3 linked regions of the Homo sapiens genome follow. The protein of the gene in region 1 purifies or fractionates together with the protein of each later gene. This does not show direct contact. Each region holds a gene or a part of one and is shown on either strand. Other genes may lie near its edges.

The links.
Region 2: the proteins of NLRP10 (region 1) and STK26 purify together in Homo sapiens (affinity purification with mass spectrometry; one large-scale study listed by BioGRID and IntAct). This does not show direct contact.
Region 3: the proteins of NLRP10 (region 1) and UBE4B purify together in Homo sapiens (affinity purification with mass spectrometry; one large-scale study listed by BioGRID and IntAct). This does not show direct contact.

Annotation. Positions count from the first base shown.
Region 1 is NC_000011.10:7,962,646-7,966,928, reverse strand, and holds the start of NLRP10 (NACHT, LRR and PYD domains-containing protein 10), read left to right. Parts: upstream 1-1,481; 5' UTR 1,482-1,683; intron 1,684-3,254; exon of another isoform or gene 3,255-3,388; 5' UTR 3,389-3,433; coding exon 3,434-3,722; intron 3,723-4,283.
Region 2 is NC_000023.11:132,061,153-132,064,801, forward strand, and holds part of STK26 (serine/threonine-protein kinase 26), read left to right. Parts: intron 1-2,280; coding exon 2,281-2,337; intron 2,338-3,649. UniProt on the Homo sapiens protein: Serine/threonine-protein kinase that acts as a mediator of cell growth. Modulates apoptosis. In association with STK24 negatively regulates Golgi reorientation in polarized cell migration upon RHO activation.
Region 3 is NC_000001.11:10,130,333-10,133,981, forward strand, and holds part of UBE4B (ubiquitin conjugation factor E4 B), read left to right. Parts: intron 1-167; coding exon 168-284; intron 285-382; coding exon 383-481; intron 482-2,036; coding exon 2,037-2,150; intron 2,151-3,649. UniProt on the Homo sapiens protein: Ubiquitin-protein ligase that probably functions as an E3 ligase in conjunction with specific E1 and E2 ligases. May also function as an E4 ligase mediating the assembly of polyubiquitin chains on substrates ubiquitinated by another E3 ubiquitin ligase.

The sequences.
Region 1 (4,283 bases):
AGAGAGATTTGTCTATACATGTTAACTCCATTTCTTTACCTCTTACTGTTTCTTTGCTAAGTTAATTTTTATCTTTTCAAAGTAATACATGGTTATGATTTCTAAAGTCAATAGGCATTAAAAAACTTATGCCCTGGAACAGTAGTCCTTTCCTCTCCTGATGCCCAGTCTCTTTTCGCTAAAACAACTATTAATACATTAGATTTTAACTATTTCTTCTTACATCTCTGCATTTTGAAGTAATATGTGTACTGTATATCACTATCTTTTGATTCAACATTTTAGGCATTGTCTATCAACTTCCTCTTCTAGTACATTCCACCACCATCCTTTCAATGTAATTATATTTTAAATTTTAGAGCAATGTTCAGTGGTTACACTATGATTTCTATGCAAACATTATTCACACTTGAGTATATTAGTTTACTATTATATTTCCAATTTTATTTTTTGTTTCTCCTCTTGCTAGTAATTTCTTTATTTTACTTTCATTTATCTGGTTTTCTTGGAAGTTACTGCTAGCTTTTTCCACCTTCTAATAGCCTCCCAATAGGCTGTTTTAGAAGGCCAATAGCATCAGCTAGTCTAGCAAGTCTTTTTTCTTTTTTCTTGGAGACATTCTTTTTGGAGAAACCTGTTCTCTTTCTGTCAGGGCTCTTGGGGATCCTCAGCTCTCTAGGCCAGAGGACTGGCTGCCTTCTGGGAATTTGTTTTTCTCCTTTTTCTTTTTTGTTTTTTTGAGACAAAGTCTTACTTTGTTGCCCAGGTTGGAGTGCAGTGGCACAATCTCAGCTCGCTGCAACCTCCGCCTCCTGGGTTCAAGCAATTTTCCTGCCTCAGCCTCCCTAGTAGCTGAGATTACAGGCATGCACCATGATTCCCGGCTAATTTGCGTATTTTTAGTAGAGACAGGGTTTCACCATGTTGATCAGGCTGGTCTCAAACTCCTGACATCAAATGATCCACGCACCTCAGCCTCCCAAAGTGCTGGGATTACAGGCGTGAACCACCATGCCTGGCCTGTTTTTCTCCTTGTTTGAATTCCTACTTCATGGAGCTCCTATCTTCTTCCTTTTTCATTCTCCAGTGATTTCAACAACTTAGAGAAATGGTGCACTGGCGGAGGATATGGTGGTGGCAGTGCTTCAATTCTTTCGTCTCTCTAGTCAAACTGCCCCAGCCTAGGCTGGGGTTAAGTGGTAGAGGAGGAGTGTGGGTTCCAGGGAGGGATGTGGGAAGTCTCCTGGGCTCTTTTTCTCTTGGTGACAGAATAGTTCATGCCTTCCACCCCTCCCTTGTTTCTCAACTTCAACATTTGAAAAAATGAGGTCAAGTTTCCCACTGGTGAGCAATTGCCCATCCCATTGACAGTCATCCCACTGACATTCAGTGGGTGGTTCTGCTTCACAGAGGCTTGGGGCAGATGGGGAGGGGCCCTTCTGTTCCAGGCCTATATACTAGGAACTGTTAGGTATCAAGCTGTAGCTGGTAGGTACCAGCACCACCAAACAGAAGTGAACTAGTGAGTATGGGCTAAGAGAGCCCAAACTTGGACCTGTAGAGCTGTCGGACCAGGAAAGGGGATCTGTTTCGTCTCAGTCCCCAGGCTTTGCTTACTGGGCTCCTGGATCAGGGAGCTGAGTTCTCGCTGCCTCACCTCCAGCTCCCCAAGTCTGAACTGTGGTAAGCAGCCTAGACTGGACATCTTCTTGGCAGGTTCTAGTGTTGTCTTTTCTTTCCTGAATTATTAAATAGCTCTGCCAACATCAGAAATTTGCAGGGAAGCCCTGAGTCTTCCCATGCAGCCTGAAGCTTTGTTGTAAATTGATCCTGCTTTCACAGGCCTGCTTTTCCAAACTGGCCTATGACTCACAACCAAAGTCCCCTGTATCCTAACATGTTCCAAACATTTTCTTTCTCTGTCAGTATGTAGTCAAAATGTTGGTATTTGAATGGCAACAACTCTCTGTGTTCCCAAATTCTCTTTTGAACACTCTCAATGATGAATGTGACATTGTACTACTGAGATGGGTTCCCTATGGGCCTTAGGTCACAGGTGTATTTCTGGATTCTGAAGGCTTTCTATTAATTGTTGCTTTTCTTTTCCAAAGACTGCCACCTGGCCTACATTTTGGTTCTACATTAGAAACACAATTCAAAACTCTGCTCTCCTTTCCCGTTACTTTAGTATTTATACATGTCTCCAGCTTCTGGCAACATTTAGCCTAACTTTCTGGTTCCTGACTCTGTCTTCTATTTCTTTATCTTTTGAGTTTTTTCTGTCTCTCTCTTCCACCCAGGGCATAGACCAGTTTAAATCCTGCCTCTTTGCCCGGTGGCCTAGCTCTGGAAAACTCTGAAAAACCATTTTTCTCTGACTGCCAAATTTCTCATGTGGAACAGTTCCTGAGACGATTTCTGAGATGATCAAAAAGGATATGTAAATCACCTGGCACAAAGTCAGCACTCACAGGTGGCGGTTCCTCTTCCTATCATTATCTGGATTTGTTTCCTTATTTGAATTAGGAGACTTCTAGCTTTGCAATCCCTGTGTGACTGAGGCCAGGAGGCTGACATGTGAGGCCAATGGGTTGAGTGTAGATTTTTTTTACCTTCTTGCCATACCACAGCAGTTCCAGCAAATGTGCTCCAGCTTTCTATAGGTTCACACAGCCAGGGACAGTCTCACTTTTAAAACTTAAAACTTGGCCGGGCACAGTAGCTCATGCCTGTAATCCCAGCACTTTGGGAAGCCAAGGCGGGCAGATCACCTGAGGTCAGGAGATCGAGTCTAGCCGGGCCCGTATGGTGAAACCCCATCTCTACTAAAAATACAAAAGTGAGCTGGGCATGGTGGTGGGCACCTGCAATTCCAGCTACTTGGGAGGCTGAGGCAGGAGAATTGCTTGAACGTGGGATGTGGAGGTTGAGGTGAGCCGAGATCATGCCACTGCTCCCCAGCCTGGGCAACAGAGGTAGACTCTGTCTCCAAAAAAAATAAAATAAAAAACTTAGACTTTTTTTTCTTAATCCATCCGTCTAAGGAGGCATACAGAGCCTAATAAAGAACGTGTTGAGAGGGAAAGAGGAAGGGAGTGGGGGGAGAGAGAGAGACAGAGATAGAGTTTGGGGGAGAGAGAGAGAGATTGAGAGATTAACACACCTACATACCTTCCTACCCATTTGCCAACACAGTCACGTGTCACCTGACTAAGAGGCAGAGGGGAATGACTAGGAAAATTCCCCTGCGTTTCATCTGCTTGTCTTTCTTGGAGCTTTGCACATGTATCTCGTCTCTCCCTGGCCTCCGCTCTATAACTTGGCCAAGCCCCCAGAAAGCAGGGTGGGCCTCTCAGCAGTGGACCTCTCCTTTTGCCTCTTTCTCCAGGTCACTGGTCTTCTGGTCTGGACTTGATCCTTCCCCCAGATCACCATGGCCATGGCCAAGGCCAGAAAGCCCCGGGAGGCATTGCTCTGGGCCTTGAGTGACCTTGAGGAGAACGATTTCAAGAAGTTAAAGTTCTACTTACGGGATATGACCCTGTCTGAGGGCCAGCCCCCACTGGCCAGAGGGGAGTTGGAGGGCCTGATTCCGGTGGACCTGGCAGAATTACTGATTTCAAAGTATGGAGAAAAGGAGGCTGTGAAAGTTGTCCTCAAGGGCTTGAAGGTCATGAACCTGTTGGAACTTGTGGACCAGCTCAGCCATATTTGTCTGCATGGTGAGTGTGGAGCGGGGGAAGGGGAGGGCAGGATGGCACTGGGACTCCCCTCCCACCATGGCATTTCCAGAGCTGCCTGTAGCCTGTACCTTATGCCTTCTGTCACCTTGTCCTCTAGTCCCTGGTGCCCCAGAGTCCTTGGTGGTCTCCACCTGAGGGTTCCAACAACTGTCAGGAGGGGGACTGAGCCAAAGCTGGGATTTATTTAAGAAAAGACTAGCCTTTCTTCCCCACATCTTACCTCCAGCTGCAGTGGCAGAGAAGGGGAGAGTCTGAAGAAAGGGTCTTAGAGACTGGGAGGGTGTTGGTGAAGGGATTTCCACTAACCAGAAGAAATAGCATCAGGATGTAGGGGTCAGACCTGTCCCTAGCTGCTTCCTGGCAAGCTGCTCAGGCGCTTCTAAGTCTTCTGTGGCCCTGATCTCTCAAGGAACCACACTACAGAATGGGTGGTGTGGGACCTCATGGCCTGCTGGTTCTTCCTGTGGGTGCCTGGGGGGAGGGAGGGATCTTTTGGTGCCTTTGCTCCCTCCCATAGGCTCCTTTCATGCTTGAAAGCTC
Region 2 (3,649 bases), on another chromosome or scaffold:
TAGGCAGGCATGTTTTATAAGATCTTTTTCTTTTAAATGTCAGGTGAATGGGAAGCTCTCTGAATTCATATGATAGAGTATAGTACTTGTTAGAAACAAACTTGTGGCAGAAGAAACAATTTTTAACCTATCCACCATTGTAAGAACCACTTTTTTCTTCTCTTGAAAAAAGTATAAAGGTACATCAGAGTCACAATTCTCAGGTTGCGAGTGCCTAGGTTCTATACACAAATACAAGTTATATGAACCTTTCCTGGAACTCCTCTTCCCTCACCAGTATTGTGGGAATTTATTTCCTCTATTTCCTAATGTAGACTTCACTGCTAACCAAGACTCTCAGCTTTCTGCTCACAGTGCCTGCTGGCCATCTATGTCAGGACAGAGTGGATGTCAAGATTAGTGGAGGAAGTGGTAGGGGAATATTGTTCCTCCCTTTCTCTTACAAATTCTACATAGTGTCAGCATATGGAAAGGAGAATCATTTTGTCTTAATTAACTGAGCCCTCCCTTCATGATCGCTAACCCTAGGCCACATCCCATTCCCCACACTACAATGTCAGTTCCACTCTGATTCTTCAACCCTCTCCCATCCCCTAAGCACTCATCATCATGTCACTGGGTTCCATTCTCTGCCTTGATAAAGTCACATCCTCATGGAGATGCCTGGAAATTTTAAATTGGACTCCTGAATACCTCCCAGGGATTTTTGAGTTTGAGGGCTACTGGCAGTAGCTTGAGAATCTTCACCCCGCAGCTGGGGTTGTAAAGGTGAGAAATGTGTTTCTGGCATCCCAAGTTGAGGCACCATGCTGAATATATTTTCCTACTTGAAATATTGTTAAGATATAAATAGTAGTGAGTTTCTCTGGTACTTTTTATGCTATACTACGAATGAATACATTTGTGTGAAATTGTCTTTTGGGAGGACTACCCCAGGAACTTAGACATTATTTTTATGGGAAAATGCTTGCTTTTAAAATTCTGAACATCTTACTTAAAAACCAACTTTTGGAACACAGTCCAGTCACTACTTGGCTGCTGCCAGTATAGTAAAGCCAACCATTCTACTTCCAGTCAGCTCTTTGGTCCCACAAAAATTCAGAGAATACCACTCATGAAATGGTATGGAGAGAGAGGTGTCCCTTGTATTTAAGCTATAGCTAAAATAAAAAGGGTTTAATGGTTTATTCCAGTGTTTAACTGATGGTACTGAATGGTATGTGTGTGTGTACACCTGTTTTAGAATTTGTATACATATATTCCTCCCAGGAGCCCCATTTCCTCTTGTTCAGCTCACAGGGAAGTTAATTCCACCTGGAGAAAGCACAGATTTTTAAAGCTACACTCTCCCTTTTTCTTATCCATTTACATCAGAGGTAAAATGAACAATATTCTTTCTAGGTTCCGTGTGTGCCAAAAATGCCCATTAACCGTAGCTGATAAAAGTTTGAAGTACATCAAAACAAATGAAAGCCAACAACTGAAATAAGGCAAAATATCCATTGTCCTCAAACTCAAACCCAAAATTTCTACAAGCCCTCATTTACCTCCTCATTCTTTAATGTAACTATCTTTTCTTTCCAATATCATTCAAGATAATTATTTAAAGCTTTGTTTTTTATAAAAATTACTAATAGTTCAACAATAACAAACAGTACTTTTATTTGTTTAGCTATATCATAGGCAAAAAGGTATGCGGGTAGTCTAAGCTCAGAATTTTAATTTGGAATGTTCTATGGAAAAAATATATTCGGGGTTCCCAAGCAACCATTTTTAAACCTACATTTTAGAATCTGTTCTTTATTTTTTTAATTTTTAATTTTTGTGGCTACAAAGAAGGTGTAAATATTTATGGGGGTACATGAGCTATTTTAATAAAGGCATATAATGTATAATGATCACATCAGGGTACATTTACTCTCTGTGTTACAAACAGTCCGGTAATACTTTTCTACTTATTTTTAAAAGTATAATTAAATTATTATTGACTATAGTCACCCTGTTGTGCTATCAAATACTAGATCTTACTCATTTTCTCTAACTACTTTTTGTACCCATTAACCATCACCAACTCCCCCTCCCTACTATCCTTCCCAGCATCTGGTAACCATCCTTCTATTCTCTATCTCCAAGGGTTCAATTGTTTTAATTTTTAGCTCCCACAAATAAATGAGAACATGCAAATAGAATCTGTGCTTTAGTATGTGAGATTTAACATTTTTGCTAGTATGTTATTTTGGCTCAGGTTTGTAATTATTAAATTGTTTCATGGCTTTACAGGGGTCTAAATTATGGATAATAATGGAATACCTGGGCGGTGGTTCAGCACTGGATCTTGTAAGTATTTTAAAATAGTTACACACAGATGCAAATGTGTGCATATGCACATACCTTAATTTTTTAAATTGAAGATTAATGGCTTTTGAGCACGCTAAGTGGTTGCTTTAGTTAATATGTTCAAATTAAATTCTTTTTTCATGACCTCTACCTTATGTAGGTACAGATGTATTGTACGTTTGAACATGTTGCTGGCATTCTAAGACTATATAAGAAATGCAAATAGCTTAATAAAATAAAGTCTCCCAAATTAGAAGGGGATGTGTGTATCCATTGCTGTCAAAGTTTGACTTTTGCAAGCTTATCCCTGAAAAAACTGAGTTTTCTTAGATTTTTAAAAAATATGTAATTGAGATAACTGTCACTAAAAGTGTTTTTTATGAACTGAATGTTTGTGTCCCCCCAAAATTCATATGTGGAAATCCTAACCCCCAATGTGATGGTATTAGGCGGTGGGGACCTTGGGACCTAATTAAGTCATGAAGGTGAGTTCTCATGAATGAGATTCGCACCCTTACAAAAGAGGCCCCAGAGAGCTCTCTGACTTTCTTTCCACCACGAGAGGGTGCAGTGAGAAGAAGGCCTTCTGGAAACCAGGAAGAGTGCCTTTACCAGACTCGAATCTGCCAGCCCCTTGATCTTGGACTTCTTTCCCAGTCTCCAGAACTGTGAGAAATATTGTTTAAGCCACCCAGTCTGTGGTATTCTGCTATAGCACCTGAATTGACTAAGATAGTGGTACTAGGGTTCTAAACAAGGTTGGCCTACAGATCCAGTTCTTCACAGAGTTCTCTCTGCCCCTCTATAGGTTATTTGGAAATGTGATGGCATTTGGGTTGTCACAATGACTTAGAAGTGCTCCTGCCATTTTTGTGGTCATGGATCAGAATGCTAAAATCCTGCAGTGTGCAGGAAAATTCAACCCAATGAAGATGCATTTACACACAGAATGCCTTTGAGAAACACTGGTTGTTCCCCAATTCAGTGTGATCCTATCAATGTTGAGTTTCTTTCCCTTCCTTAAAAATCTTTATTAATATGATACTATGTTTTAAAATTCAGTATGACTTATGAGAGGCAACTTAGTGTAGTAGAATGACCACTGGGCTGGCCTGGGGTGTTTGAGGTTATAGGTCTGGCTCTGTGCCTGTGAACCAGACACAAACTTCCTGGACGTAGGTGTTCTATAAAACAAAGAAGTTGCACTAAGTTATTTCTAAGTTCCCTTCCATCTTTAATATTATATTTTTTTTATTTGCGTGTTTCTGCCTTAGAAATTATAGAGTATGCTGTTTCTAAGAAAGTGTTTTGA
Region 3 (3,649 bases), on another chromosome or scaffold:
GGCCTCCCAAAGTGCTGGGATTACAGGCGTGAGCCACCATGCCTGGCTGAAACATAAAAGTTTTAATAATATCTTGTGAAAATACAGAGGAGCTGGAGAGTTTTCATTACATTTTTACCCCACCGGCCTGTTCAGCGGCTTGACTGGCTCTTCCATCTTCTGCCTAGGTTGCTTCTTTGCGGTTGTGGTTGCCGAAATCCTTAAGTCCTGGCTGTGGGCGGGAGCTGCAGAGACTCTCTTACTTAGGGGCTTTCTTTAGCTTCTCAGTCTTTGCAGAAGATGATGTAAGTATAGTGGCTACTTGTACTTTGCTGCCCTTTTATTCAGATTCTTTCCCAAATGTGCATTATATGTTGACTGCATTTTTTCCTTCTCTTTCCAGGTTAAAGTGGTTGAAAAATACTTCTCAGGGCCTGCCATTACCCTGGAAAACACTCGTGTGGTTAGCCAATCATTGCAGCATTACTTAGAGCTCGGAAGGGTAAGTGTTCAGAAAACAAATCCAGAGGAAGTATCAAAGATGAGCTCCAGATACAGAGCTTTTATTTTGTAGACTGGACTATGCCCAGTAGACAAACGGCTAACAAAAGCCAATTCGATCTTACATAAAAAAGATAAACTATAAGTAAGTAGCCTGTGTCTTGAATAACAGGTTGTAACAACAGCAGTATGCTGCCTTTGTATGTAGCATCACTGGGAACTGGTCCTAAGCTTAGTGGCCCGGCTCCTCCTCCAGCTGGCCCTTAGGCATTTACACTGTGAGGGTGAGCAAGGATTGTTAGTTTGCACACACCCTCACTGACTTGCTTATCCCAAATGCAGATTAATATGTCTTCAATTCTCAAACTTAAAGGCAGAGAAGGGCCGGGTGTGATGGCTCATGCCTGTAATCCCAACACTTTGGGAGGCCGAGTGGGGTGGATCACCTGAGGTCAGGAGTTTGAGAACAGCCTGGCCAACATGACGAAACCCCGTCTCTACTAAAAATACAAAAATTAGCCAGGCATGGCAGCGCGTGCCTGTAATCCCAGCTACCTAGCTACTCGGGAGGCTGAGGCACAAGGATCACTTGAACCCAGGAGGTGGAGGTTGCAGTGAGCCAAGATCACGCCACTGCACATCAGCCTGGGCGACAGAGCAAGACTCCATCTCAAAAAAAAGAAACAGGCAAAGAAGTTACAGGCTTGGGTAACTAAGGTAATTTTGATCATGGGAAAGAAGTAACAAAGCCTATTTTATTAAAACTGTAACTGCCGGCTGGGCGTGTTGGCTAATGCCTGTAATCCCAACACTTTGGGAGGCTGAGATGGGCTGATCACGAGGTCAGGAAGTCATCCTGGCCAACATGGTGAAACCTCGTCACTGCTAAAAATACAAAAATTGGCCAAGGCAGGTGGATCACGAGGTCAGCAGTTTGAGACCAGCCTGACCAACATGGTGAAACCCCATCTCTACTAAAATACAAAAAAAATTAGCTGGGCATGGTGGCGGGTGCCTGTAATCCCAGCGACTTGGGAGGCTGAGGCAGGAGAATCGCTTGAAACCGGGAGGCGGAGGTTGCACTGAGCCGAGATGTGCCACTGCACTTTAGCCTGGGCAATAAGAGCAAAACTCCGTCTCAAAAAAAAAAACAACAAAAATGCAAAAACTAGCTGGGTGTGGCGGCGTGTGCCTGTAATCCCAACTACTCGGGAGGCTGAGGCAGGAGAATGGCTTGAACCTGGGAGGCGCAGGTTGCAGTGAGCTGAGATTGCACCACTGCACTCCAGCCTGGCAACAGAGCTAGACTCTGTCTCAAAAAAAAACAAAAAACTGTAACTGCCTACCTCCCCCACTCCATATTCTGCTTTCATGCTCATTACTTTGACATAGTTGGATGTGGATATTTCTTATATTCTTTCACTCAGGCTCTTCTAAAATGAGTAGAAGTGGGAGAGGAGAGAACGTGGGAAGTAGGCTAGCTGTTCGTGAAGTCAAAAAGGAATCATGTGCAAAATAGTTTTAATTTGTTTCTTCTTTTTAAAAATAAATTTCAGCAAGAGCTTTTTAAGATTCTGCATAGTATTTTGTTAAATGGCGAAACCCGTGAGGCTGCTCTCAGTTACATGGCGGCTGTCGTCAATGCCAATATGAAGAAAGCACAGATGCAGGTAGGATTCCTACAGACTGCTTTTCGCTGTTTGTCAAATTCATTCATCTGACCCAGATTTAGTCAGCACCTACCAGGCACTGTTCTAGGAGTGGGGGTACAGTATTGAACAAGGTAGACGAGCTTCCTGCTTTTGTGGAGCCCATGTTCCACAGAATAAACAAGTAGACATATAAATACATGATTTTAGACAGTTGTATAATCAGTGAAGAAAATAGAGCAAAGTAAATGACATGAGAAGAACTGTAGGTACCAGAAGGAAGATCTGAAGGTGATTTTTGATTGGGTGGCAGGAAAGGCCTCCCTGAGGAGGTGACATTTGTTTCATAGGAAGGAGCCAGCCATTGTAGTGGCTGAGAAAAGAGCTATCCAATGTGGAAACGAAGCAGCTTTGGTACAAGCCCAGCACGCAGGCTTTTGTGGCTGGAGAAGAGTGAACAGGAGGGAATGTCGGGTCCTGGAGTTAGTGGATAGGCAGGGCGCCATCGGGTTAGGTTTACGTGATCAGAACTGTCATGGGAGGGTTTTCAGCAGGGAAACCACAAAAGCTGCTATGTAGACGGACCAAAACAGAAGGGGGCAGCCAGGAACAGACCCAAGGGGGCAGCCAGGAACAGACCCAAGAAGGCAGCTGCAAGGGCGTGAGTGCTTCGGTCCGGGTGAGACAGGCCAGTGGCTGCAGCTGCTTTGCCAGAGGAGAAAAGGGCATCCTTCCTTGACTAGTAATAAATAATGAATGAATGATGTGATGTGTATACTCAGAAGCAAAAATCATGTAGAGAGAAGAGCACAGATCTTGTGATTTCTGATCGTGGTTCCACCGTTTACTAACTGCGGGACCTTAGACAGTGACTCCTCTGTGCCTCCATTTCCTCATCTGCTAAGCTGCGGTACTACTGGTACTGGGTTTATTATATATAAAGCTGTTAGAGTGGTGCCTGGTACACAGTGATCACTCAACCAATATTAACTATCATTCTTATCATTGTTGTATTATTATTTTTTTCTTAACAGAGGTAATCAAGTTACATTGTTATATTGCTAATGCAGGAGCATGCTGATGCTGTCACCTAGAGAAACAATGTCACATGATAAGAAGTGGAGCAACTTGTTTTGATGCTCTTGAGGGAAATAAAGAGGAGAAAGAGGCCGGGCATGGTGGCTCACGCCTGTAATCTCAGCACTTTGGGAGGCCGAGGTGGGAGGATCACTTGAGCCCAGGCATTTGAGACCAGCCCTGGCGACATAATGAGACCCCATCTCTACAAAATATACAAAAGTCATCTGGGCATGGTGGCTGGTGCATGCCTATAGTTTCAGCTACTTGGGAGGCTGAGGCAAGAGGATCACTTGAGCCAGGGAGGTCGAGACCAGCCTGGGCAACATAGGGAGACCCTGTCTCTACAAAAAAAATAAAAAATTAGCCAGTATAGTGGCATAGACCTGTAGACCCAGTTATTCAGGAGGCTGAAGTGGGAGGATCACTTAAGCCCGGGAGGT